Linked DNA regions of Homo sapiens. The protein of the gene in region 3 interacts with the protein of the main gene of each other region in a pairwise test. Each region holds a gene or a part of one and is shown on either strand. Other genes may lie near its edges.

Region 1 (3,747 bases), on a different chromosome or scaffold from region 3:
TTCCTGTTCCCTGGGAGGTGAACTTGGTAGCTGGAGGTGAAGCAGCTGGAACTTGGATATGAGCGTCTTGTTGATGATAATAGTGCAACAAGATAAAAGCAGCCCGAGCTGGCCTACATTTACATGAGAAGGAAATAAGACTCCATTTTGTTTAAGCTATTCTCTTGCATATATATATACACATATATATCAGCTAAGTGTAGCCATGTGACTAACTTGTGGCCAATGGGATGTCAGTATGAGTGGTAAGAGCAGTATCTTGTATATATATATGTGTATATATACACACACACATATATATACATATATGTATGCAAGAATATAAAATATACATGTGTGTGTGTATATATATACACACATATATATGTCCCTTGCAGCCAAGTCTAATTCTAACTAATACAAACTAACTCTAAAAAATGAATATATATTCACCAGGGGATAGGCTATTTCAAGCAGAGGGAAGCCTGTATAAAGGCTCAGGGAATGCCGTGGTTTTATGTGGCAGCAGATGAGACTGGAAATGAGTCAGGATGAGCCACAGTGGAGGATGAATTAAATGGGCAGGAGTGTGGTAGAAAGACCTGTTGGAGGCTATGAATGCAATCAAGGTGACAGACAACTGGTGCAATGATGGTAGTGGAAATGGAGGAGAGGGGATTGATTCAAGATGCATTTAGGACCAAGAATCGGGAGCTTGTGAACGTGTGTATGAGTACTGTAGACGGAGTGGGTGTGTCATCAGAGAAGATCTGAGCATTTGGGCTTGCTCTCCTCAGAGGCCCTGCGAGTGGAGTTCAGCTTTTCCTCATGGGGCAAATCTCACTTTCGCTCCAGTTCCTGGGGCTCAGAGTCCCTGGCCCAGATGCCTCTTGCCATCTCATCTTCACCCTGCCTGGCTTCCCTTGCTTGTTCCAGGATTGTTTCATAAAGAGGGATGTGGTTGGTCTTTAACCCTATGAATGCTGGCTGAGGATGCCTGCGGAACCTGTAGTGAAGCTTTCAGGGGCTGCTCGGGTTCTGGCTGGTAGGTGAACACTGTCCATCTTGCCGGCTGGGACACAGTGACTCTGGGTAGTTGTGTAAGAGAGGGGCCCTTGGCAGACAAACAGGTTCTTCTCTGTTGGTGGGCCAGCCAGCAGGTCAGTGGGAAGGTTAAAGGTCATGGGGTTTGGGAGAAACTGGGTGAGGAGTTCAGCCCCATCCCCCGTAAAGCTCCTGGGAAGCACTTCTCTACTGGGGCAGCCCCTGATACCAGGGCACTCATTAACCCTCTGGGTGCCAGGGAAAGGGCAGGAGGTGAGTGCTGGGAGGCAGCTGAGGTCAACTTCTTTTGAACTTCCACGTGGTATTTACTCAGAGCAATTGGTGCCAGAGGCTCAGGGCCCTGGAGTATAAAGCAGAATGTCTGCTCTCTGTGCCCAGACGTGAGCAGGTGAGCAGCTGGGGCAGAGGGATGGGGGTCACAGTCCTAAGGGAGGGCATTGCAGGTGGCCTCAGGGGAGAGCCTGGGGTGGCCCCTAAGACGTCCTCTTGGAACATTTTGGCAGAGTTGCCTCTTCGCCCTCATTATGGCTCAGTTTTTCCACCATGAAATGGGAGGGAGGGAGACAGGTGGGCAGGGGAGAGGTGGTAGAAGTGGCCTAGAGAACTGTTCCTGGGGTCTGGGACCTTTGCGAAGGGGTTAGAGCACCACGCTCCCTGCTATGTGACTGAGGTAGCAAGAGCACGCCCTCTTCCCATGTCTGAGGAAGACACCCTAGCCTCCTTGACTCACCTAGGTCAGTCCTCTTGAGCCCCAACAGCTCTGTGCTCCCCAGCCCAAGGAAGGGGTAACAGGATTTCGGGCAGTTGCCCCTGCAGAGGCCCCCTGGGCAAGTCCCCTGCGCCATGTCCCTTCGTCTCCTTCTTCCCCTAACCAGGCCTCCCTCCACCTGTCTTCTCAGAGCAGGTAATGGCAAGCATGGCTGCCGTGCTCACCTGGGCTCTGGCTCTTCTTTCAGGTGGGTCTCCGACCCTGACTTCAACGTGGGGGTGTGGGTGGAGGCTGGCCAGAGGGCCCTGTCCACCCTGGGGGAGGAGAGCCCAGGCCCTGATTACCTAGTCCCTCTCCACAGCGTTTTCGGCCACCCAGGCACGGAAAGGCTTCTGGGACTACTTCAGCCAGACCAGCGGGGACAAAGGCAGGGTGGAGCAGATCCATCAGCAGAAGATGGCTCGCGAGCCCGCGTGAGTGCCCAGGGGAAGGGGTGTAGGCGAAGGGAGGAGACAGCTGGGCCATGCCATGATGACCTGCCTCTGCTGCCTCAACCTCTGTGGCCGCTGCTGGGACAGAGGAAAGGAGCGGTGCTAGCTCTGTCTGCAGATCCCGGCCATCCTGGGCTCTTTAGCGCCCTCTGCCTGCAGCCCCCGCCTTGACAACTCCGTAGCTGTTGCCCCCTTGCTCACTGAGGCGCGGGACCTGGGATCAATCGGGAGGACGCCCGCTGCAGTCCCCAGAATCAAAGGATGATGTGGCGCATCTATGTTTCTTTGGAGAGTGTTGTAGGTCTGGATTTGTATGGGCAATGTGTTTGTGCTTCGTGCGTGAGTTGTTACTGGCCAGGGCTAGGACAAGAGCCCTCGACCCTGGGGCCAACGCCCTGCGTCCTTGGTTCCCCCAGAGGATCAGTGCGCGATGACTTGGGGACAAAGGAGATGATGGAGGCTAGCAGTCTGACGGCCTGGATATCTGTCCCCTTCTCCAGGACCCTGAAAGACAGCCTTGAGCAAGACCTCAACAATATGAACAAGTTCCTGGAAAAGCTGAGGCCTCTGAGTGGGAGCGAGGCTCCTCGGCTCCCACAGGACCCGGTGGGCATGCGGCGGCAGCTGCAGGAGGAGTTGGAGGAGGTGAAGGCTCGCCTCCAGCCCTACATGGCAGAGGCGCACGAGCTGGTGGGCTGGAATTTGGAGGGCTTGCGGCAGCAACTGAAGCCCTACACGATGGATCTGATGGAGCAGGTGGCCCTGCGCGTGCAGGAGCTGCAGGAGCAGTTGCGCGTGGTGGGGGAAGACACCAAGGCCCAGTTGCTGGGGGGCGTGGACGAGGCTTGGGCTTTGCTGCAGGGACTGCAGAGCCGCGTGGTGCACCACACCGGCCGCTTCAAAGAGCTCTTCCACCCATACGCCGAGAGCCTGGTGAGCGGCATCGGGCGCCACGTGCAGGAGCTGCACCGCAGTGTGGCTCCGCACGCCCCCGCCAGCCCCGCGCGCCTCAGTCGCTGCGTGCAGGTGCTCTCCCGGAAGCTCACGCTCAAGGCCAAGGCCCTGCACGCACGCATCCAGCAGAACCTGGACCAGCTGCGCGAAGAGCTCAGCAGAGCCTTTGCAGGCACTGGGACTGAGGAAGGGGCCGGCCCGGACCCCCAGATGCTCTCCGAGGAGGTGCGCCAGCGACTTCAGGCTTTCCGCCAGGACACCTACCTGCAGATAGCTGCCTTCACTCGCGCCATCGACCAGGAGACTGAGGAGGTCCAGCAGCAGCTGGCGCCACCTCCACCAGGCCACAGTGCCTTCGCCCCAGAGTTTCAACAAACAGACAGTGGCAAGGTTCTGAGCAAGCTGCAGGCCCGTCTGGATGACCTGTGGGAAGACATCACTCACAGCCTTCATGACCAGGGCCACAGCCATCTGGGGGACCCCTGAGGATCTACCTGCCCAGGCCCATTCCCAGCTCCTTGTCTGGGGAGCCTTGGCTCTGAGCCTCTA
Region 2 (3,747 bases), on a different chromosome or scaffold from region 3:
TTCACACCAAAAATAATTATTGCTATTTAATAACATGATCAAACGTCAGGCAGCACAAGCCCCCACAGTCAGTGTTCGAGCCATCAATTTACACCTGTTGGGGTGGCAGGGAGCCGTGGGCAGATTGGGTCAGGACCCCTCGCTGGGCTCTAAAGTTCCTGACACTGCTGATGCCTTTTCTGGGAGCCCCCTCTGCTCCCTTGTCCTCAGCAATACTGCCCTCTGCTGGCTAGTATTAGGGTCTTAGCGCTAAAGGGACTCAAGTCCAACTTTAACCACTAAGCTCTCATGTCAGAGGAAACAAACGTGAAACCCAGAGAGGGGAGGTAACACATCCAAGTTCACACCACGGAGCTTATTCTGGGCCAGACACTATGCTAAGAACTTCCTGGGAGTGATCTTGTTTAAAAACCATAACCATGAGGGATCCCCGAAGTCAGAGACTGCAAACTGTCCCCCAGTATCTACTTTTCACATCTTAGAAATGACACCCCTAATGTTCATTTAGATGGGCACAGGACCACTTGGAACAAAGACTTCATTTCCCAGCTTCCCCACTGTGATTTAAGCAGAGTAGTTGCCAAAAACCCTTTTTTTTTTTTTTTTTAAAGACAGAATCTTGCTCTGTTGCCCAGGCTGGAGAGCAATGGCACGAGCTTGGTTCACTGCAACCTCCACCTCCCGGGTTCAAGCAATTCTCCTGCCTCAGCCTCCCGAGTATCTGGTATTACAGGCGCCCACCACCATGCCCAGCTAATTTTTGTATTTTTAGTAGAGATGAGGTTTCACCATGTTGGCCAGGCTGGTCTCAAACTCCTGACCTCACGTGATTCACCTGCCTCCGCCTCCCAAAGTGCTGGGATTACAGGCATGAGCTACTGTGCGTGGCCCCAAGAAACTTCCTTAAAGACAGCTGGCATGTGCCCATGGCTACCTCTTCTCCCCTCCTCTCTCCTGCTGGCTGGAATGAGGCCGTCATGGGCCAGAGCTCTGGCAGCCATCTTGAACCAAGAGGTGACCTGAGAAACAGAAACTACACATGGGGGACCAACAGGCAGAAAGGACTCAAGTCCCTAACTCCAATGAGCCATATACTAGTTCTGGACTTTGTTTACTTGAATGAAGTAGGCTGCTGTCTTATTTACACCATTGTTACTTGGGGATTTTCCGTTACTCACAGTTGACCCTAATCCTAATACATCTCTAAGTTACAGATGAGGAAACTGAGGCCTCCCCAGCTGGAAACATAGCCTCCTCTTTGACTCCTCTCACCCTGGTTCTCCACAGCCCAAATGGTGAGTCTTCATTTCTCATGCTGCCCATCAATTCCTACCCTCAATCCCCTGCCTCCATGAGAACAGGGCCAGGGCTGACACCCAGCGGGTGAGCACCAGCACAGCCCTCTCCACAGTTTAGAGCTGGCATCTGTTCTGACTCCTCAGTGCCAGAGCTAAGCCCACTGTTACACATTCTCATCACCAACCCTATCTGTGACCACTACAAAGACAGACAAACACCTACATCCCTCCTTGTAAATCAATCAACTGATGATTGCCGGAGACCTAAAATGCTTTTAGAAAAGCCCCACACTCACCATGGTTGTCAATAACGTGTCTTCCTTTTCTCCTCTTGTGCTCCCAGGACCTGAGAGACAAATGGAAATTTCCTGAAATGACCCCTCCACGTGTCCACAGCATAAGGATGAGTGACTGGGGCAGGCTTCAACCTGGAAAACCAACTCTCCTGGGTGCTTAAATATTTAATAATAATTGGTATTCGATATTTTAATAGAAGGAAGGCATTTAAAAGGTATATTGGAGCATGTTTTCAGCTTTTCCATAAACCACTGCCGTACTGAGTCAGACAGTGGTGCCCCCAGCTCAATAGTCTGTCTCAGACAGTGGTGCCAAAGTAGCTAATCTGGTCATGGGGAATCTGACTGTTAGAAGGGATCTTATCTATGTTCCAGTCAGTATGGGAATCTCCTTCAGCAAACTGACAAAGTTATCCAAGCTGTTGAATACCTTGAGTGACGGGGAGCTCACTACTCACACCCTCCCAGTAACTCATTTTATTTCAAGATGCTTTCAGTGTCATAGACCAATCACATTTCAGAGGTGGGGAAAACCACCTATCAAAGGCAAGAGAGAGGACGACTCCCTGTCGTCCCTCAGCAGGGAGTGTGGGACAGGAACCTGGGCCTCTTGCCACTGGCCAGCACCTTCTCATTCTATCACACTCTTGGTGGTTGTGTCCCTGCCTAAGTATCTTTTCCACCAGACCAGCCTCTATGCTCCAGTGTCCCATTCCAACATCATCTTACCCCTGACAGCAACCCAGGAGGTAGGATGAAGGGCAGAGGGTACAGGCTCAGACCATTCCAAAAATTCTACTGCACATGCAGACTTTTCTCACCATTGTCTTTGGTCACAGGGGCCGCATCAGGGAGTGCAGAGCGGCTTGTCTTGTCCTGGGGGGCAGCCCTCATTGTGGAGTCCAGAGCTGGCTCAGGCTCGTCAGAGAAAGGCAAAGGCTGGTTGCTGGACAGCCCACGGGGCAGCGTCTGCATCAGTTTGAGCTTTCGGAACCGATTGGACATTCGGTTCCACCAGGACTGCCAAAGGAACGCAGAGCAGAAGTCATGCTCCAGGAAGGGCAAGGAGACCAGGCCCAGGACCTGCCAGCCCAGAGACAGTGACTACATTCACATGTGCCTGCCCTCCCCTCTCCTGGGGCCCAGACAGACATTACTGATCAATGATAGCACCCATTCCCAATAAGCCATGGTTACTCACTAAATCTTTCCTGACCCAGCCCTTAGGCAGTCACTTCCAATAGCCTGGAGGTGGCAGTGAACCCTATTTGCCACCCCTCATCTAATCAATCTCCTCATTGCACAGATTGAGAAATGGAGACCCAGACAGGATTGCTGACTTGCTTGAGGTCTTACAGTGAGACAGGGACAGATGGACACAGAGGCAGCTCCAGATTCCTAAGCGTCTACAATAGCATAATCTCCCTCCTCCTGCTCTGGTGATAACGTGAGAGGCATCAGGATCTCTATACCAGGGCCTGGGCCAGCTGCTCCTATAGCTGAGCCTCACCTAGAGAGGACAGGCACTACCTCCTGGGAACGCTTGTAACCCATGACCACTCAGAGGTTAATGAACAGCCACGAAGGGCATCTGTGAGGGCCTGCCTGTGGAAATGGCAGTAAGAGCAGGAATGAAGGGAGCTATGAGAACAACACAGTCAGGAAGGATGCAGAGCTTGAGCCAGCAATGGACACAAAAGGAGCGCCGAGTCTGCAGCCCTCAGAAGGCGCTACCACCCCATGCAGACTGGGGAGGTCAGCAGACAAGACCAGTGTGTTGTTTTGTTTTCTCAGGCATAAAGTAAGTTTGATTTCAAACAAGTAGAGCAGGATGTGGAAGATGAGAAATCCAAAGAGAAAGTCTCAGCTTGCAGTTACAAGCAGCCACCAGAGCTTGTTTCTGGTGTTTCCAGGAAGCTGGCAGGGCCTGTGGACTGCAGGGAGACCCCAGAGTGGCATGATCAGCAAATATCCTGCACAGTAAAGCAGAGGCTGCAAACGGATTCCTTGGGAAGAGAAGTGTTTGCTTTGGCCAGCTCAGTACTACATCATGCAGAATTTTCTAAAATTCCCTGTACTTATAAATTAAGATTCCATATCAAAATCTGGATTTCTATTTTTTCCTTTAAAAAAAAAAGAGAGAGAGATCTAGT
Region 3 (3,747 bases):
GGGCCCCAGCTGACATCAATCAGTGCTTGCCTGTGTGGCAGGGAGACCAGACTGGGGGAGAGGGTCCCAGAAATCCAGAAGGAGAGCTGTCCCCGCCCCAGGTCAGCTCCACCCACCTCCCAGCCCCCAGCACTGCCTGCTCCTTCCCCAGGCTGGAACCCTGCCAACTGTGACCTTTGGGAACTGAGTAGCATTGGGGATACCAGCCTTTTTTCCAGTCCTAAATAAGTCCTCCAAATGGAAATATATATTATTTTTCTCATCTGAAAATTGCTCTGGATTTGTATACTGGTCCCAAGGGTTGCCTCTGGGGAAGGGGGCTTGAATGCTTGGGGACAGGGAGAGCGTCTTACTTTTCACCAACCTGTTTGTTCCCTTTAAATTTTATCCCATGTGTGTATTGCCTTTCTTTCCCTTTCTTTCTTTCTCTTTCTTTCTTTCTTTTTCTTCCTTTCTTTTTCTTTCTTTCTCTTTCTCTCTCTCTCTCTTTCTCTCTTTCTCTCTCTCTCTCTTTCTCTCTTTCTTTCTTTCTTTCTGATGGAGTCTTGCTCTGTTGCCCAGGCTGGAGTGCAGTGGCGCGATCTTGGCTCACTGCAACCTCCGCCTCCTGGGTTCAAACGATTCTTCTGCCTCAGCCTCCCGGGTGGCTGGGACTACAGGTGCGCACCACCACGCCCAGCTAATTTTTTTTATTTTTAATAAAGATGAGATTTCACCATGTTGGTCAGGGTGGTCTGGAACTCCTGACCTCAGGTGGTCCACCCACCTCTGCCACCCAAAGTGTTGGGATTACAGGCATGAGCCACCACGCCGTACCGTTTCTTTCTTTTTTTTTTTTTTTGAGATGGAGTTTCTGTCTGTCACCCAGGCTGGAGTGCGGTGTTGTGATCTCGGCTCACTGCAACCTCCACCTCCCGGTTCAAGCGATTCTCCTGCCAAGTAGCTGGGATTACAGGTGCCTGCCACCATGCCTGGTTACTTTTTGTATTTTGGTAGAGATGAGATTTCACCAGTTGGCCAGGCTGGTCTTGAACTCCTGGCCTCAAGGGATCTGCCTGCCTTGGCTTCCCAAAGTGTTGGGATTACAGGCATGAGCCATCACGCCTGGCTGTATTGACTTTTCAGATACTACAACCTACATTTTAAGTTAAAACCTGCTTGCAAACAAATACAAATGTATAAAGCCAAGAATGGAAATTGTATATCAGCCCACCCTAGAGGTGACGTTAGTTAAGATCTATGTCCTCTCAAAAGTTTTTATTCATAAATAGGTATATACATGTGTGTATTACATTATGTATCTTTTACAAGTATGGGACCTTTCTGTACATAGAGCTTTACTATTATAACCTGCCTTTTGAATTTTTAACAGTTTATCATGGCTATTTTTCATGTCATTACCACCTCATTTTTAGCAACAACGAAGTATCCCATTGGATGGAACTCTGTCTTGTGTCTTAGCATTGCACAGAGCTCCCAACATAGCACTGGCATAGCTTGCATTCCAGCAAGCATCTATTGAGTGTCTACTGCATGGAAAATTCCAGAAGTTTCAAATCTAGTTGGGGCTTAGATGGGTCCTCACATACCTGTGTTCTCTCTGTGTTCTGGATAAGGGCTAAAGCAGGTTCAGACCAGAGTGTGTGTGTCTGTTTGTGGTGTGTGGGCGTGGGAGAGGGTTGTAACCAGGGCACCCTTTCTGCTTCTGCCCAGTAAAGACCCATCAGCCTGTGCTTGGGGCAGAGAGGTGTGGCCCTGTCTTCCGGGGACACCAGGCCCTGAGCCCAGGTGCTGTGCTCCCCCTGCAGGCTGCGTCCAGTTCCTGCAATATTATTACCAGAGGGGCTGCCTCTACCGGCTGCGGGCCCTGGGGGAGAGGAACCACCTGGATCTCACAGTGGGTGAGTAGCTGGGCCTGGGTTGGAGCCGGGGCAGGTACTGGACCTGCCAGCTCCCCACACCGGGAGTGCAGCCCTGCGAGCACCTCCCATACAGCGGAGCCAGGCCGCTGCCCTTTATCCGAAGCGCCTTCCAGAATTCATCCTGGATTCTGTTTCAGCTGCCAAGTGCCAGGCCAGCTGCATACCAGGCCCCGAGGGCAGGGCCTCTGTCTCAGCCTCTGGAAGTGTCTATTTTTTTGTGTGTGTTCTAGAATACACACACACAAATTAGCCATTTGTGTGTAACATGTCTACATACCAACACGTATAAGTATATAAATGCATGTACACGGGGGAGACATGCCTCACTCTGAAGCCATAGGAGTGCCAGCCAGAAAAGTGAGGAGACACCTCATTGAGAATTTCAGGGGAAACTGTTTTTAATACAACTCTGCTATCTTTTTTTTTTTTTTTTTTTTTTTTGAGACGGAGTCTCACTCTTGCCCAGGCTGCATTGCAGTGGCACGATCTCTATTCACTGCAACCTCCGCCTCCCGGGTTCAAGTGATTCTCCCGCCTCAGCCTCCTGAGTAGCTGGGATTACAGGCATGTGCCACCACGCCCGGCTAATTTTTGTATTTTTAGTAGAAATGGGGTTTCACCTTGTTGGCCAGGCTGGTCTCAAACTGCTGGCCTCAAGTGATCTGCCCACCTTGGCCTCCCAACGTGCTGGGATTATAGGCGTGGGCCACTGCACCTGGCCAACTCTGCTGTCTTTTGACATAGTCATTTCCATCAAATTACTCTCCTAAGTAGGTCCTCCTGTCTCAAGACTCGATAGAACTAATGCATGTGAAAATTCATTATAAAATGCAAAACCCTGTGCAGATTAAAGAAATTAGTAACAACATAGCGCCCAGTGTCTGTGTGTTGTCACCTGGCTCTTGGTGGCTTGAAGAGAGAGAGCAGTCAGGCCAGGTGACAGGGTTGCTATTGTCATAGTGAATGCCCACCCAGCTATGACAGGTGAGGGCTGACCCCCCGCATGTGTGACTGTCCCTGGCTCATCTTAGGGTGACTGGTGTGGCTGGGGGTGGGCGTCTGGTGGAGCTGTGGGGGCAGCGGACCCCCTCAGCGGGTCCTTTTTCTTCCCTCCTCTCCACAGAAGGGTTCCAGTCCTGGATGTGGCGGGGCCTCACCTTTCTCCTGCCCTTCCTCTTCTGTGGCCATGTGAGTCCCCCTGGAGTTTGTGGGTATCTCCTGTCTGGGCTGACCCCCAGGAACAGAAGGTCTTCAGGCCTTGCCCTCCTTCTCCATCCGTCCCCATGCTGGGGCCCACAGCATCCTGGGGCCGGGGCAGCCTCTGGGCCCAGGGATGCCAAGGCAGGAGCCAGAACTGACCTAGCTCTGCCCTGGCCTCGGGTGCCTGCATTTCATTTTGGGGGTGTCTGTCAGTGTTGTGGGTAGTTGATACCCAAAGTTGGGTGAGGGGCCTGGCCATCACCCTGGCTTTCTACGTGGCCGGCCAGGGGAGTCTGGTGGGTGAGCAGCGCCTGCCTTCCTCTCCAGTTCTGGCAGCTCTACAATGCCGTCACGCTGTTTGAGCTCTCCAGCCACGAGGAATGCAGAGAATGGCAGGTATGGGGGGTGGGGGCATGCTCGGGGGAGGTTCCCGGGAGGGCTGGGGTGGCAGGGATGGGGTGTATGTGTGGCATGCTGGGGTGCGGATTCCTGGGGAGGGCTGGGATGGCAGATGTGGGGGTGGGGTGTGTGCGTGTGTGTGGTGTGCTGTGGGGAGGTTCCTGGGGCGGGCTGGGCTGGCAGGTGTGGGGTGTTGTGGGGGGCCTGCTTGGCGGGAGGCTTCTGG

Evidence for each region.
Region 1: the proteins of TMEM120B (region 3) and APOA5 interact in binary tests that used the Homo sapiens proteins (3 or more experiments, as listed by UniProt).
Region 2: the proteins of TMEM120B (region 3) and ANKS6 interact in binary tests that used the Homo sapiens proteins (3 or more experiments, as listed by UniProt).

Annotation. Positions count from the first base shown.
Region 1 is NC_000011.10:116,790,065-116,793,811, reverse strand, and holds the start of APOA5 (apolipoprotein A-V precursor), read left to right. Parts: upstream 1-1,932; 5' UTR 1,933-1,951; coding exon 1,952-2,000; intron 2,001-2,114; coding exon 2,115-2,226; intron 2,227-2,744; coding exon 2,745-3,684; 3' UTR 3,685-3,747. UniProt on the Homo sapiens protein: Minor apolipoprotein mainly associated with HDL and to a lesser extent with VLDL. May also be associated with chylomicrons.
Region 2 is NC_000009.12:98,775,811-98,779,557, forward strand, and holds part of ANKS6 (ankyrin repeat and SAM domain-containing protein 6), read right to left. Parts: intron 2,615-3,747; coding exon 2,416-2,614; intron 1,645-2,415; coding exon 1,595-1,644; intron 1-1,594.
Region 3 is NC_000012.12:121,771,613-121,775,359, forward strand, and holds part of TMEM120B (transmembrane protein 120B), read left to right. Parts: intron 1-1,808; coding exon 1,809-1,901; intron 1,902-3,045; coding exon 3,046-3,110; intron 3,111-3,449; coding exon 3,450-3,518; intron 3,519-3,747. UniProt on the Homo sapiens protein: Necessary for efficient adipogenesis. Does not show ion channel activity.